3 separate regions of the Homo sapiens genome follow, and all the other regions are linked to region 3. The links come from fine-mapping of genetic effects on plasma protein levels. A gene starts in region 3. Each other region holds a variant in brackets. All regions are shown on one strand. Distances are from middle to middle.

Evidence for each region. PIP is the chance, under the fine-mapping model, that this variant and not a neighbour inherited with it causes the effect. Protein levels are from antibody-based Olink assays in UK Biobank. Linkage for the fine-mapping came from a reference panel and not from the study's own genotypes, which makes the PIPs less certain.
Region 1: its variant is fine-mapped to the plasma level of the CSF2RB protein (UK Biobank, PIP above 0.99).
Region 2: its variant is fine-mapped to the plasma level of the CSF2RB protein (UK Biobank, PIP above 0.99). The variant lies in the coding sequence of CSF2RB. If it changes the protein, the assay may bind it differently, which can mimic a change of level.

Annotation. Positions count from the first base shown.
Region 1 is chr22:36,933,074-36,935,500 of GRCh38, forward strand. It overlaps CSF2RB (colony stimulating factor 2 receptor subunit beta), which reads left to right. Exons shown (of 14, transcript NM_000395.3): 10 at 759-921; 11 at 2,278-2,368. Among named protein-coding and RNA genes, the nearest start is that of CSF2RB, 21 kb to the left of the region's middle. The variant A/G (reference allele first, on the strand shown) is at 2,190.
Region 2 is chr22:36,927,017-36,932,016 of GRCh38, forward strand. CSF2RB (colony stimulating factor 2 receptor subunit beta) reads left to right here. Exons shown (of 14, transcript NM_000395.3): 5 at 2,386-2,543; 6 at 2,623-2,791; 7 at 3,359-3,494; 8 at 3,657-3,814. Among named protein-coding and RNA genes, the nearest start is that of CSF2RB, 16 kb to the left of the region's middle. The variant C/T (reference allele first, on the strand shown) is at 2,775.
Region 3 is chr22:36,911,679-36,920,791 of GRCh38, forward strand. It overlaps CSF2RB (colony stimulating factor 2 receptor subunit beta), which reads left to right and starts at 1,950. Exons shown (of 14, transcript NM_000395.3): 1 at 1,950-1,999. It overlaps LOC105373023 (a long non-coding RNA gene), which reads right to left. Exons shown (of 2, transcript XR_938230.2): 2 at 6,794-7,261. RefSeq lists an enhancer at 1-484.

The DNA.
Region 1 (2,427 bases), 18 kb after region 3:
GTCTCTTGGTGAAGTAACTGAGGTTTGGAAAAGTGGCGTGGCTTGGCCAACGTGAACAGCTGACCCTGAGTCCCCAGGCAACAGAAGACCCTCTGGGCAGGGAGGGGTTGAAAGGCCACTGGGAAGAAGGTTTTCAAAAGTCATGAAAGTTTGGGGTTATTTCCTCAGAGGAATCTCATCTGGACACACATGGAGGCTCAGACAGAGCTGCTTCTAATGAGTCGGGGGTGCGCCCAGGCCAGGGCTCGGTCCCCTGCCTCCACAGAGCCCAGAACAGAAACCACAGAACCAACCCCACACCTTCAGTCTAGAAATGGGGCAACTGAGGCTAGGAGGGAGGTGGGCCAGTGGTGGAGCCAGGAGCGGGCCCTGGGGTCCTGAACCCCCATTCTCAGGGTCCAGAGTCCAGTCGGCCTGCACTGCGTTCCTAAAAAGGCCACAATATGGGTGCAAGCTGCCCCAGAAGGGCTGGGAGCTGAGAAGGCTCAAAATAGGGTGGGACAGGTGGCTTCAGGGTTCTGGGCCTCAGTGTTGTCAATGTCAGGGGCTGCACTGACAGGTGGAGTCCCCGGTGCCATCCGAAGTGCTGTCCGTGGGTGGGCCCTCAGGGAGGATCCACGGTGGTGAGAGAGAAGCCGCAGCAGGCCTGGGGTATGGCAGGAGCTAGGAGCCAGCGAAGCCGAGGGTCCAGGTGGGAGGGATTTGCAGCTGCTCCCACGGGCACCGGGCCAGGCCTCACCCTCAGTGCCAACCCACAGGACAGCAAGACCGAGACCCTCCAGAACGCCCACAGCATGGCCCTGCCAGCCCTGGAGCCCTCCACCAGGTACTGGGCCAGGGTGAGGGTCAGGACCTCCCGCACCGGCTACAACGGGATCTGGAGCGAGTGGAGTGAGGCGCGCTCCTGGGACACCGAGTCGGGTAGGTGAAGGCTGGAGTCCAGAGCTTCTGGCCAGGACCAGCTCATAGTTTCTCACTGCCAGAAAATCCCCAATGCAGCAGCCGTAGCAGGCCTGCAACAACTTGTAGGTGAGCCGTCTCCCCGATTAGATGGTGGCCAAAGAGAAAGGGAAGGCCTTTGCAGAGAGCACCTCCCACCTGGTCATCAGACCCGCAAGTTGAAAGAGGCAAAGAGTAAAGCAGGCAGAAACTGGGCGTGGAGTCAGAAGTTCTCCACCCACTCTTCATGAGACAGCACAGCTGGGCAGAGGATGCCACATCTCTGGGTGGGCACAGAGATGTGGGGCTCCAGACCCCACTCCACTCAGGCCTCCTTCCCTCCCTTGGACCACTAGTCGTTGGAAAGTGACACCTGGTGTTCAGTACAGACTGCAAGTGAGGACTTGAGGGAGCAGAGGAGAGCAGGTCTCATGATCGCTCCTCCTTTAAACTGGGACTTAGGCTTCTGTTAATATGGCCCTTGGTTTCTTAGCTTTTGGGACTACCAAGTTTTTGTGGTTGCTCAGCCCGAGTTTCCTGTTACCATGGAAGCAAGAAAATCTAGAGCCACAGACTGGGTCCTTGGATTGGAAGGTTTTGCTGTGATTCCTTCATCTTCCCACCTCCCTGCACTTGCTGCGTGCACTGACCCCTCACCTTTCACCACAGTGACCACCAGGCGACTCCCGCAGAACAAGACAAGTCCAAGGGGTGGTTTCAGAGAGAGTAAGGATACAGGAGATATTGGGAGCAACCCAAGTCCCCAGCCAGGCTTGGTAGCGGCAGGGGCCCAGGGAGAGGGCCACAACCAGGTAGAAAGGAGGCCGGACCAATGGGCCCAAGAGAGGAGGAAGAGGGGAGTCCTGGAGGAACCTGGCCTGGGAGCTCAGGGCTGGGCAGCAGGTGGGATCAGGGGCCTCTGGAGGGGCCTTTGCTCCTGCTGGTGCCTCTGCCACTATGCCTTTCCCCATCTCCACCTCTAATCCTTCCTATTACTGGAGGCCCAGCTAATATGCCACCTCCTTCAGGAAGTCCCCTGTGATTGCCATGAACAGTGGTTCTTGCCCTCCCTGTAGCACCTCCTGTGCTATAGATCCTGGAAAGGATCTGACCCTCCTGTGTCCTCCCAGCACTTTGAACACTGTGGGGGTTCAGACCAATGCCCTTCCCAGCATGGATCTGGCCTCTCTCCCCTAATCCCCCAAGGCAGTAAGTTCCAGAGCCCTGGGCCTGCACAGAGCGGGGTCTTA[A/G]GGAATACTGCACCAACCCCACTCCCTGCCCTGAGGTCGATTTCCCGCCCAGATGCTGACATTCCTCTTTCTCCCCGGCTGCTGGAAGTGCTGCCTATGTGGGTGCTGGCCCTCATCGTGATCTTCCTCACCATCGCTGTGCTCCTGGCCCTCCGCTTCTGTGGCATCTACGGGTACAGGTGAGGGGACTCTGTGGGGCTGGAGGTGGCAGCCGAGACCCCAGAGGGCACTGGGGAAT
Region 2 (5,000 bases), 13 kb after region 3:
TGACTAGTCCAAGGCCTCTCTACTGCTGCTGGCAGAGCTGAGATCCAGTGCAGGATGGTCTGAGTCCCCGGTCCTAACCACCGAACCACCTGGTGCTCTTTGCAAGGGTCACACGGAAGGGGCTCTGACCATGGCTTCCTGCCCTTTTTTGCCACAACATCATAAAGCCACTGCCAGAGGAGGGGATCAGTTAGGCCACCAGGAGTCCATCAGAAGCAACATTTCCACACATGGGTTTGATGGACACGAGAGTCCCTTCCTTCCCGAATGGAGCTCAGGGGGCCCAGGCTGGAGGGAGGGGAAACACTGTATGCCGTCCACCGTGAGAACTTACTGACAGTGGCGGGTGGGTGCCTCATGCAGGGGGTAAAGGGCAGGGCCCCTGGGAGATCAGAACAGGCTTCCCAGAGGGAAGAGCTTTGCAACTCAGATCTGAAGGGTAGACAGGAGGGGAGGGCAGTAAGAGCCTCTCTGGCAGGGTAACAGCTGTGCAGAGGCTGGGGGATCAGAAGGGCATGGGCAGCTGGGGAACCTGCTCACCATTGTGTCCAGGGAGCATCAGCTTCAAGGGCTGGACAGCGGTGGGAAGAAGCAGGAGACACAGGTAAGGACCTGTCCCTGGAGAGGCTTCTGTCTCCTGCAGTCTCAGGTAGAGGGGACCCTCTAGGCATGGAGAGCACTGAGGGGAAATGACATGATCAGATGTGGATGTGAGAATGCTGGGGACAGGGGACTTACAGGGTAGATTGGAGGAGCATTAGTTGGGAAAGAAGTTGAAATTCAGGCTGTGGCCTAAAGCACTCATTCCTAGAAATGATGAGGACACAACTGGCTAGGAGATGGGGACATGAGGGCATGCAAATCATAGTTCAGATATACACACAATTCATTCATTCAACCTTCTTTCCTTGAGCGCCTACATAAGCCAACGAAGCAGTCAACAAACCAGCCAGCAACCCTGCCCTTGGAGCTTACAGCCTGGAAACAAGGAAGGTTTCTAAGGCGATGGAGACAACTTAGATATAGGGAGAGAAGTGTGGCCCTTGGCCTCCTGGAGCCTGTGTTGAGTAGCGAGGTAGGGTCCAGCCTAATGCAGATTAGCAATGAATCAAGGATGCTGGGAGGTACTGGGCAGGCGACAGGCATGCATCTGATCTGCTCTGAGTCTCCATGTTTGGAGACCTTGGACATTTTACTTCCTCTATGAGTTTCTCCGTCTGTGAAATGAGCTGGTGGACTCAAGAGGTTTCTCTTGAGTTGGCTGAGCAGGTTTCTGATGGGGCTCCCAGTCTGCGCAGTTTGTGGCAGCTTCCGAGAGGGCTCTGCCGGGAAGAGCTCCCCCTCCATGACAGCCTCGGGGGCTGGGAGTGCAGTGACCCATGAGGGACGCCTGTCCTGGCTGTGGGTGAGGAGGGGCGGTTCCCCTGCTGTGTGTCTGCCGTTCTGGGTTGATGGTTCCTGACATGCTCTAGCATGCCATAACCCATGTCCAGCAGAGAGCACTTACATCCTATGTGTGAGGATGTTTTCGTTTGAAAGCCATCCCTCAGCAAGCAGACACCAGAAACCAGAAATCAGGTGCCGTGTCTTCATTCTGCATTTTCTTGAACAACCCAGAGTTCCCAGGAGATAGATGCTTGCCTTGTGGCTGCAAGGATTTCATGAGAAGCCCCAAAGTTGCTTACGCGTATTTGTTCATTCATTCACTCATTCACCTTGCCCCATAATTCACTGAGAAGCCGCATCTCAGCCTGGAGGTAGGGAAGGGGGTCAGGACCAATCCCACCCACCCCCATCTCCTCACACCTTAGGGGAGGCAGACACAGAAGCATAGGAATCCCTCAGCTGTGGTAAGGCCCTGGTGGAGGGAATTCCACTGAGCTATGGTGAAATGAGAGAAGGAATGAGGGATTCCGCCTGGAGATGCAGATCCGAGGATGTTCCTAGAGCCGGAGGCATTTGCCCGGGGCACTGACAACAGGAAGGACCCTGGGCAGGAGGAAGGGAGCTTGGACAGCAGGAGGGGGGAGGCCGCTGAACCGCAGGCCCCTCTGCTAGCAGGAGCCACCCAGGCCGCAGCGTGGGCAGTGGGGAGCCTCAGGACAGAGGAGGCTCCAATGAGTTTCCTCGCCAGCGCTTTTTATGGAGTTCGGGTCACGTGCGCATTGCAATCTGCACGGCTTTCCATTGCTTTCATGTTGAAACCCTACAGTTTTGCAGATGAAGGGCTGAGGCTCACAGAGGAGACGGGTCTTGCTCAAGGTCCCTCAGCTGCTGGGGGCAGGGGTGGCCTGGAACCCCCTGTGTCCACACAAAAGGCCATGCAGGCCCTGACTGCCCCCCAGCGGTCCAGCCCTTAGGTGCCCTTCACTTCCTCCCCTCCAGTCCAGCCTCCTGAGCCCAGGGACCTGCAGATCAGCACCGACCAGGACCACTTCCTGCTGACCTGGAGTGTGGCCCTTGGGAGTCCCCAGAGCCACTGGTTGTCCCCAGGGGATCTGGAGTTTGAGGTGGTCTACAAGCGGCTTCAGGACTCTTGGGAGGTAGGAACCACGGCCAGCTCTGCCCCAGCCCGAAGGGATGGGCAGCACCCCTCCTCCAGCACCCACTGTCTCCTGACAGGACGCAGCCATCCTCCTCTCCAACACCTCCCAGGCCACCCTGGGGCCAGAGCACCTCATGCCCAGCAGCACCTACGTGGCCCGAGTACGGACCCGCCTGGCCCCAGGTTCTCGGCTCTCAGGACGTCCCAGCAAGTGGAGCCCAGAGGTTTG[C/T]TGGGACTCCCAGCCAGGTAATGTTGCCAGAGCCCAGGAAATGCCCCGTGGTGGGAGGGCAGGCTCATCAGGAGCTCCTGGCACAGCAGGGTTCCTGGGCTCCACCTGGGGGCTTCCCAGATCTCCTGCTGCCATCTTTCCAGTAGCGTCCCTGGGCCGTCCCACCTCTACTGTGACCACTGACCAGTAGGACTCTGCATCTGTTCACTTTGGGTTTCCAGTTTTCTGCACGTTCTCTGCCAATGGCAATTACAATAATAACAACAACAGTGCTATTAGCAGCTGTGTGTTAATGGAGGCTACAGGATGCTCAGGGCTTACCCACATTTTTCAGTTCAATCCCCAAACACTGAAACTTAGATACTATTTCCATTCTCCCGGGAGGGCGTGCAGGTGCACAGAACTCTCTCTCTCTCTCTCGGAGCTGTTGGACACACAGCTGGCAGGTTCAGGCTGAAGTTTCAGCCCTGGTCTTTTGGCCCCAGAGCTCATGACCTCTGTGTGATGAATCACACGGTGGGCACCCACTGAGAGCTATGGGAGGGATGAATGACGGAGTACATGAGGACCTGTCTCCAACCCAGGGGATGAGGCCCAGCCCCAGAACCTGGAGTGCTTCTTTGACGGGGCCGCCGTGCTCAGCTGCTCCTGGGAGGTGAGGAAGGAGGTGGCCAGCTCGGTCTCCTTTGGCCTATTCTACAAGCCCAGCCCAGATGCAGGGTGAGCATCTTTTTTCTCCATCCCCTCCCCTCCTCTTGGCCTTGCTCTCTCCAAGCTTCCTCCTGTCCCTGGGGCCCCAGCAGAAGCCACAGCCCACCCTAAGCTCTCCTCCCTCCCGTGTGCCCTCCCTCTCCCTGCCCTCAGCTCTGCTGTGCTCCTCAGGGAGGAAGAGTGCTCCCCAGTGCTGAGGGAGGGGCTCGGCAGCCTCCACACCAGGCACCACTGCCAGATTCCCGTGCCCGACCCCGCGACCCACGGCCAATACATCGTCTCTGTTCAGCCAAGGAGGGCAGAGAAACACATAAAGAGCTCAGTGAACAGTGAGTTTGCTCCTAGCCCGCTGTGGGGATGGTCTGGGACCAGCACACCCTCATTGTGTAACCCGAATCAGTTCAGGGTTCCTCCTGGCCCCGTCTTCATGTTTGTCACTTTCAAAGAGATGCAGTCCAGTGACCAAAAGTGAACAGAGAAGCAATGAAACCACGACGGCAGTGGCCAAAAACAGGAGCAGATCTTTAAAACCTCTGATCTCTTGTCCTTTTCTTCTGCTTCCCTCTCCCATCCTGCAGCTCTCTAAATCTCCACTGCTAGCCACACCCTCCTGGTCCTGTCACCAAAACCTTCCCTTTCATTCCTCATTGGATTTTCCTCTTTCTGATATCCGAAATTCCCCACCGACTGATATTCTATCTTTAATGTAATTGATCTATGATGTACTTTTCAACTGGAGCCTGTGGTGTGTACAAATAGTGTTGATCCTTGGAGGTTAACATCCCTCGTTTCTGTGATGTAACAAGGACCCCAGTGCAATGGAACCTCTCACGTTGTTTCATGATGACCAAGTTCTTCCATCCAGTCTTTAGCATATGTGAAGGGCAGAGGCCAATTTGTCTTAATTACCTGGGTTTGAATTTACCATTAACTCTCTTGGGATCCTCACTGGAAAAAGGAATTCTGATTGTTCAAAAGCACAGGATATATTAAGGGCCTCATATAATGCCTGGCACATAAGAGACCTCAGCAAATTACGGGCATTCATATTATGTTTATACAGTGAAGGCATCAAGGTTATAAGCATTCTCTTTTTTCTTTTGGGTAGACTGAAGCTCAGAGAGGTTGAGTGGCTTACTTAAAGCTGCACAGCTATTAGTAGGCAGATCAAGATTAGAGTTCAGAACTTCTCACTCCCTGCCCAGTTTCTGCTTTCTTTACCCTTTGCCTCTTTCAAGTTGTGGGTCTGCCGGCCAGGTGGGAGGTGCTGTCTGCAAAGGGCTTCCCTTTCTCTTTGGCCACTATCTGGCTGGGGAGAGGCCTCACCTAGATGTTGTTGAAGGCCTGTTACAGCCGCTTTATTGGGGATTTTCTGGCGATGAGAACGTGTGAATGTCCTGGCCTTTAGTCAACTCCCTACACCTCTGAGAGTGTCAGACAAGAGAGCCCATCACACTGGTGGGATTGCAATCTTTGCCTCTACCACTGCTTAGCTGCCTTTCCTTAGGGCAAGTT
Region 3 (9,113 bases):
CTTTCAACAAGTTATCTTCCTTTTCATGCCTCAATTTCTTCATCTGTAAGGTGAAGACAGTAACAGCTACATAAAGGTTATTGGGAAGAGATGGAGAAGCCCCCAGCCGAAGGTCTGCTCACAGCGTAAATGCTCAAGCCCTGGTCATTATGAGTACTACGTTCTTGCCAACATTTTCTTGGGTTTCTTAGTCTCTAAAAGATCGTCAATTGCAAGACACGGTATTTTACATACCACTGAAGGAAAAAACAAACAAACAAACGAAAACATTCAATGAATTCCTGACGGTGTGATTCTTCTCGCTTAGAACTTTTAATACTTATTGAGAGAACTCTGTTAGACTCATTCAAATGTAGATTTTTATCCCCTGCTGCTCTATGATGACTTTTAAAAGGAAAGGGTCAGTCAAGTGAATTGGCTGAGGTGTTCCTAAAGCTCCTTCACATTTTGGGTCTGGTGTCCGGAGTGATTTTGACTCAGAGTCTCGGGTTCTTCGTTTCTCCACCAGACAGCATCCTCTGTGCTCCTGAGGGCATCCAGGCCCGCAGCCTCCCAGTCCCACAGAGGACCTCAGCAAAGACAGGCAGAGTGGGGACACCTGGGAGAAAAGAGAGCCCGGGACGTCACTTTAATTCCATCCTCTCCAGCCCTGGAGAAGCCCCTGCAGGGTTTTTCCATGCCAGGCAGGGACCTCACACTGACCGGAGTGCCTGAGAGAACCACACATGCCTTCCTCTACCCTGGGCTTTCTCTGCTAGGGTGAGGCCCTGCCAGCTCTTCCTGGCCAACCCTGCCCTTCCTGGTAGGAGGAAAGCAAAGAACAACAATCAGGCCAGAATTCCAGTGGCTTCGAGGCAGGTTCCTGCCCCTCCATTTCCTCCATTCCCCTCATTCTTGCCCTCCATTCCCCTCATTCCTGCCTGCTGCCCTTTCTCCTGGGAGGCAGCCCCATGTAGGAGAAATATGACTGCGTTTTGTTGTGTCTTGGCACTGTGATTCATCTTGTCTTTATTCAAACTTTTCATATTTGGTTCACCGTGAATAGTTTCTGCATCAGTTGGGATTTTTTTAAACCATATTGCATTAAAATATTACTTACAACAATTACTGAATTTTTAAATGCCTGTTTAAATTTTGAGCACGAGAGACTGCCTCACTCACCTGACCTTAATTCTGCTGGCCCTGCTGTGCTCAGGGAGCCACTCATTCATTCATTCATTCATTCATTCATTCATTCATTCATCTATTCATTTGCACACAGTCAAAGGTGCAATTTCTCCTCTGTACCAGGCCATGTGCTAGGTATTTGGGAGGGAAGTGCAAGCCGGACACAAGCCAGCACTGAAGATAGTGTCAGAAGAAAGACAGCCATGAACACACATGACCATATGACACATGGTGGGGTGGGGCGGCAGGGCAAAGAGGACATCGGGGAAATCAACATGCCACCAGCTACCACTTGTAGGGGGTTCTCCTGTGGCCAGCTCTGAGCTAAGGTCTTCCTGCACAGAATCTCACTGGATTCCCTCAACAGTCCTTCCAGGTTTGTAGATGCTTCTGCAAAAGTAACAGACAGATGGATGTCCCGAGGCTTGGGGAAGTAACACGCAGATGATTTGCACAAGGACACGCTTTAAGAAGCAGTGGACTTGGAAGTCCAACACAGATCTGTCTGGCTCTGGGCTCAAACCAGCTATGGTTATTGCAGCCACTTCCACCTGCATCCCCATCAAGCAGTCAGGGAAGGCTGCATGGAGGAGGCCCTGCGTCAGCTGAGGCTTGAAGGAGGCCTAGGAGTTTATAGGAAGGTAAATTGGAGTAGGAGGCTTTCTGGAAGTAAGAAAAGTCACGTGCACTATTAGCAAAGTAGGCCTGGGCCGGCACTGCTTCCTCTTTCTGCTTCTCTGTTTCCTGATGACATCAACATAAATAGGAAACGTGGGAGGCTCACTCTGCCTAGAGGCTCCAGAAGAAGACTGGTCTCTCCCACCACACAGAGGTATGGCCCGGCGTCCAGGAGCAGGGCTGAGGGGTGGGGTCAGAGCAGGGGGGAATGTGGGGAGTCCAGGATGAAAAAGGACAGGGGGAGCCTGGGGGGCGTCCTGTGGGTAGCTGTGCCCTGGGGACTTGGAGGAGTTAGGGCTTGGCCTCTTAGGATGACCTGAGCCCAGACTCCTAGGGCGGCCAGTGGATGGGGAGGCAGCCAGGGGTGCCAAGCTGCTTGGGTGTTGTAGGAGAGCTCTGGGGAGGACTCAGCCTCGCTAGCGGGATCTGGTTGGTCCTGGTGGGAAGGACGCCTAGTGGGGTGAAGAGAGCTCAGGCCTGGGAGTCAGGCACCTATAGTCTGTCTTCGCTTTGTCACTAAGATGCTGGTGGTAGTGAGAGCACCCCCTGTCCACCCTGGGCTTCTGTCTCCTCATCTGTGGAATGGGGAGCATGGATAGTCCCTGACATCTTGGTTTAGAAAGAGAGAGAACGCATGCTCGTGTGTTTGCCCGTGTGTGCATTTGTGTGTGTGCCTGTGTGTGTATGTGCATGTGCGGATGTCTGGGGATGCAGGAGTGCAGAGAGACTAAGAGGCAGAGGGTGAAACCTGGAAGCTTGCTGCGCTGAGGCCCAGAGCTGGGTGCGGTGTGGCTTGAGAAGCTCACTTTGAACTTGAGAAAGAGCCCAGCACTTTGCCCAGAGACATACCAGGCACTATCCAGCAATCTCTCTCTCTCTCTCTCTCTCTCTCAGTCTCTCTCTCTGTCTGTCTGTCTTTTTAGTTATGACACTCTGCCCTGCTGATTTGGGTTGCTGATTTGGGTTGGGGCCCAGGTGTGTGTGTTCTGTACCCAAGTATGCTGGCTGGGTGGGTGGGTATCTGGGGTGCCTGCTTCAGGGTGTGTGCAGGTGTGTGTACTGGCCCTGAGAATGAAAGGGCAGGTGTTTCACTGGGACCTTGTCAGACAGGTGCTAGCGACAAGCTGCATATGTGCAATTTTTAGTCTTCAAAAACCCTGCTGTTATATTTTTGTACAGCCCAATTCTAATTTTTTTCTATCATCTTTCCTGCTTTGTAATCATTTTATAATGAGTAAACATTTCCTATTAGCTTTTGGTCACTCTTTTTTTCATCCAGCAGTTTTATTTATATTGTTCCAGTATACAGATATACCAACACCACAGGATAATTCATGAGTTGTATAAGGAATGTATTTAATGCTAAACAAGCAACTACACAGAAACCTACCTTCATGAAAATTAGAATAATCTAGAATTATGTAGCACAAGAGACAAAGTCCCCAGCAATTTCTTTTCCCTAGTTCCATAGCTTATTCTTTTCACCACATGTATTCTTCCAGAACATTTTCTAAGCATGATACAAGCATATAGTTTTTCTTTTCCTGTTTGTTTTTTGTTTTGTTTTGTTTTGTTTTTGTGACAGAGTTTTACTCTTGTCGCCCAGGCTGGAATGCAGTGGTGCAATCTTGGCTCACTGCAACCTCTGCCTCCCGGGTTCAGGTGATTCTCCTGCCTCAGCCTCCTGAGTAGCCGGGATTACAGGCATGAGCCACCACACGTGGCTAATTTTTGTATTTTTAGTAGAGACAGGGTTTCACCATATTGGCCAGGCTGGTCTCGAACTCCTGACCTCAGATGATCCGCCTGTCTCAGCCTCCCAAAATGCTGGGATTACAGGCTTGAGCCACTGTGCCAGGATGGTAGTTTTTCTTTTTACAGAAATGGGATTATTTTATTTATATATATATATATATATTCCTAATTTTTTCACTTAATATTGTATTTTGGAATATTTCCAAATTTCTACAATAATACATACAGATTTAACTCGTTAAGTAACCCTAAGAAATATGTGGCATTTATTAGGATGGGTACACCACAATTCATCTAATCTCACGTTGATCGACACCTAGATTGTTTCTAATTTTTCCACATCTGTGAAAGTGTTTCTGTAGCCTAAATTACTAAATGCAGAATTGCTGTGCAGAGGTTGTGCGTTAGAAATTATAATAGGTATTGTCAAATCAGCCTCAAAGTAGCTGAGCTAAGCTGACGTCCCCAAGGTAGTGCATAAAGGGTCCAATTTACCTTTAGAGAAATTATCAATCTTCTAATTTTGTCCAATATTATGTATGGAAATTCTCAATGTCGCGTGATTTTTTTCTTTCCCTGATTATGGGTGAAGTTGTACATTTTCTATATGTGGATTGGCCTTTTGGATTTCATTTATGATGAATGTGGAGAAATTTTTGTTCATCTCCTGTTGAATTCTCTTTTACATCTTAACTTTTGGAGTGACTCATTTATTACGTGTATTAATAATCCATTTATATATGTTGAAAATATATTCTCCCAGGTTATGACTTATCTTTTTCTTTACCATGTTTAAGATGTCTTATGTCATATAAAAATGTTTTCATTGTTAAGTCAAACCTGTCATTACTTTTTACTTTATGGTTTCTGATTTTGGTGTCTTGTAAACCTCTAAGATCACAGGTGTCTTGTAAACCTCTTTTTACTTTATGGTTTCTGGTTTGGTGTCTTGAAACCTCTAAGATTACAGAAAGAGTTTTAATAATTTTACTATTTTGGTTTTGACTTTGAGATTTTTAGCCCACCTAGAATTTAGAGAAGTGAGTAATGTGTAAAGTAACTTTTAAAAATAATTACCATCTAATTGTCTTAACATTGCTAATTATGAGTGTGTGATTTCTCCTCTCTTCAATGATTTGAAGTGCCCCTATTACATCCTAGGCTTCTATACATACTTCGTTATTTTCTTTATTGTTTTCTCTTCCATTTGGCTGTCACTACATTCCTTATTATTTTTCTAACGAATGGAGCAAGTCTCTCATCTCTGGTTTGTTATAATTTAGAATCAGTTTGCCAAGGCCAGGCACAGTGGCTCATGCCTATAATCCCAGCACTTTGGGAGGCTGAGGCAGGCAGATCCCTTGAAGTTGGACGTTCAAGACCAGCCTGGCCAACACGGTGAAACCCCATGTCTACTAAAAATACGAAAAATTAGCCGGGTTTGGTGGTGTGCACCTGTAATCCCAGCTACTTGGGATGCTGAAGTGGGAGAACTGCTTGAACCCAGGAGGCAAAGTTTGCAGTGAGCCGAGATCACGCCACTGCACTCCAGCCTGGGCAACAGAGTGAGACTCCAACTCAAAAATAAAAATAAAAATCAGTTTGCCAAGCCCATTAAATTCCTTTTTGGAATTTTCATGTTGATTGCATTGAATTTAGAGATGATCTGAGGGACATTGACCACTGGAAGTAAAGACAATAGTGAGAGCCTCCTGTGTGAGGCTTTGACAGGAGGACACTAACGTGCCCCCTTGACTCTGTCATCGCCTTTGGTTTCTGGCAGACTTTCAGTGATGCCAACGTTTCCGCCACTGCTTCATTTGCCAGGGTTTGTTTGTTCATTTAACCAGAAATGTCTTGTTTATTATTAAATATTTAGGAGTGTCTGTCAAGATCAGCTTATCCTTTTTTCCCTTTTAATCCGTTCATCTGTTTGTTTGAATCATAAATAGGTTTCTTAAGGGTTCTCCTTCCATGTATGGAGTACCCTCTACTTGGCCATGATGTCTTCTTCTTTTAAAAGTCTTTGTCAGGTTGACCTATGAAATTGTTTTTGTCTGGAGTGAATTTGTATTTTGCTTTTCCCCCCTAGTTTTTATCCCTGCCATTCAATTTCTTCATAAGCTTGGGAATGTTTATCCCTGCCATTCAATTTCTTCATGAGCTTGGGAATGTAATATGTGCATGTTTATTTTGAGTAAGAAGGTGTTTGGTTTTTCTCTTCTCTTTTCTCTCTCTTCCTTTCTCTGTCCCTCCCATCCCTTCTCTGTCATCCTCCTGTCCCCATGCTTACTCTTCATTCTTAGTGATTTTTAATCTTTATGTTTTTAGGGATTTAAAATGTATTGAACTTATATTTTCTGGGTCGGGCACAGTGGCTCACGCCTGTAATCCCAGCACTTTGGGAGGCCAAGGTGGGCAGATCACTTGAGGCCAGGAGTTGAGACCAACCTGGCCAACATGGTGAAACCCAGCCTCTACTAAAGATACAAAAACTAGCCAGGCGTGGTGGTGCATGCCTGTAGTCCCAGCTACTTGGGAGGCTAAGTCACAAGAGTCGCTTGAACCCCGGAGGCAGAGATTGCAGTGAGCCGAGATCATGCCATTGCACTCCAGCCTGGGTGATGGGGTGAGATTCTGTCTCAAAAAAAAAAAATAGTATTTTTTTTAAAGAAACCATATTTGCTACCAGCATTTGGGTTTATTTAGCACATATATGATCTTCCAAAACAAGAGGAGATCTTTAGCAAGTTTTCAGTTCTCTTCCATTCTCCACCCCAGCCTCACAGCAAACTCCCACATTAAAATCATCTGAGTTTTAGTTCAATATTCTTCTTTAACTTATCTGTAAGTGTTACAGGTTTATTTACCTCAGTATTTCAGCTTTCTTGGATTTTTTTTTCCTGAAATATAACCTAGAGTAATTTCTTTCAGAAAAGATCTGAAAAACTTTCTTTGTCCTTACATACTCAAAATTTTTTGTGTCCTTTAAATGTCAAAGAAAACTTGGCATTTTGTGATTCTAGGTTTAAGCATAATTTTCCCTTGGTATTTTCAAGACATCTATTTAAAGTTCAGAGTCTCTTATGTGAAATCTTTAGCCAATCTGACCCTTGTTGCATTCAAAGTATCCTATTTGTTTTCTTCTGGAAGCATTTCTGGGATCATCCTCATATTCTTGCAAGACGAAAAGTTTACCAGTGAGAACTAGGCATGGCTTTATTAAAAGGAATCTTGGGAGTTAACCCTGATCTCTGTCCCCTACTACAAAACCTCATCGTAGTAGCCTCCCCCCTTGAATACAGATTCCTTACTGTCTTTGAAAAATATTTTAAAAAGGAGTCTTGTTCTTTATTGAGTGGCCTCTTGTCTCCTTGAAAGCCCTGTGAAGCTTTCCCCATTTGCTGTTGTATCTGTTTGGCTGCACATGGAAAATCCCTAAGCAACAGAGGCTTAACAACATAGAAGTTTCTTTTTCCCAGCATATAAAAGATGCCCAGAGGTAGCAGTTTCAGGCTAGTATGGTTGCTCCAGAGTGAGAGTGGGAATCCAGCTTCCTCTCTTTCTGTTGCATCATCTTCACATATGGCTTCCATCCTCAAGGTAACCTCATGGTCCAAAATAGCTGCTGAAGCTCCAGCTATCACCTCCAAGTTGCAGGCTGGAAGAAGGAAGAAAGACAGAGGGACAAAAATGAACCCCTCCCACCTAAGTCAACTGCCATTGAGCAGCCTTTTTTGGAAGACATACACAATGTTTCTATTCTCATCTCCTTGGATCACGTTTAGTCACTTGACTGCACCTAGTGGCAACGGAGTATAGGAAGGAAATAGACCTTTTTATTCTGTGTAGCAATAAACTCAGCTAAAACCTTGGCTTCTGTTGCCAGGAGGAAAGGGACACGGTCTTCCATTGTCTTTCAGACTAGGTAGCTGACATTGTCTGCCATACCTGCTCTTAATTCTCTCCACCCCCTGCTTCTGAATGCTGGAATTTTTGAATTTCTTTCCCAAACCTAAAGTTTTCTCTAAGACTTTTCATCTCCTTGACTATTTGCTCTATTTTATATATCTATCTTTTTCATTTGTGGTATCCATTCTGTGGTTTGGCCCACTATTGATTGTTGTTGTTTTTTTGTTTGTTTGTTTTTTTGAGACAGAGTCTCAGGCTGGAGTGCCATGGCAACGGTCTCAGCTCACTGCAACCTCCACCTCCCAGGTTCAAGCAATTCTCCTGCCTCAGCCTCCAGAATAGTTGGGATTACAGACGTGCGCCACCATGGCCAGCTATTTTTTTTTTTTTTTGCGTTTTTAGTAAAGACGGGGTTCTACCACGTTGGCCAGGCTGGTCTCAAACTCCTGACCTCAAGTGATCTGCCCACCTTGGCCTCCCAAAGTGCTGGGATTACAGGCGTGAGCCACCGCGCCCAGGCTTTGATTGATTTTTTTTTAAATTATGGATCTCATATCTTCAAATTCCAAGAACTCTGTTCTTTGCATAGAAGTGTCTTCTTTTAAATGGCTATGATTCTCAAATCTCCCTGAGGATGCTGATTTAGATGTCTTAATGTACTCTTTTATTTTTGCTGTATCTGTACATGTCTGTAGAAGTGTCTGCTGGGTTAGCATATGTCAGAATAGATGTGCGCTGTTTTGACATTTGGGAAACTGAATCACTATTGGCATAGAGGTCAGGGACAGAGTCTAGAGGCAGCCCACTGCGGGCTCGAATCTCAACCTGTTCCTTACCAACCGTGTGACTGTCGACCAATTACATAACATCCCACCCCTGTTTTCTCATCTACGAAGTGGAGCTTCTAGTGGTAACCTATACATAGATGTATTCATATCCGTAAAACCTTTTGAATAATGCCTGGCTCATGGAAAACACTGCAATATTGTCAGCCACTATCATGAATTCTCTCTGTGTATGTGAGTATTGTTTGTGCTCTTTGATGATATTGATTTGTTTTAACCTTTTAAAGTAAAAGACACTAACCTGTCCTCCATAATTCTGGTTGGTATGGTCTATATGTTGAAGTGCACCCAAGTTTATGTTGCAACCTAATCCCCAATGTGAGAATATCTGGAGGTAGTGCCTGTGGCACCCTATAAAATACCCCAGCGAGCTCCCTTGCTTATTCCATGTGAGATTATAGGGAGAAGACTGCAAGGAACAGGCCCTCACCAGATAGTGAATCTGCCCGCACCTTGATCTTGAACTTCCCAGCCTCCAGAACTATGAGAAATAAACTTTGTTACTAGTAAGCCACTCCATCTATGGTATGTTGTTACAGTAGCCTAACGGATGAGTACATTGGTGCAAAGATTTTCTGTTTGCACTCCGTCCTTTCCTTTTATGGTTCAGTCAGTTTGACAAATTACAGAAGATTTCACTTTTATGTACTTCTGCCAGCCTTTGTCTCTGTGATGTCTCCTATGCTTTTAAGCTTAAAGAGTTCAAAGGCATTCACTCCTCTGGTTTGCAGCTTTCATAGGATGTAACATTTTACA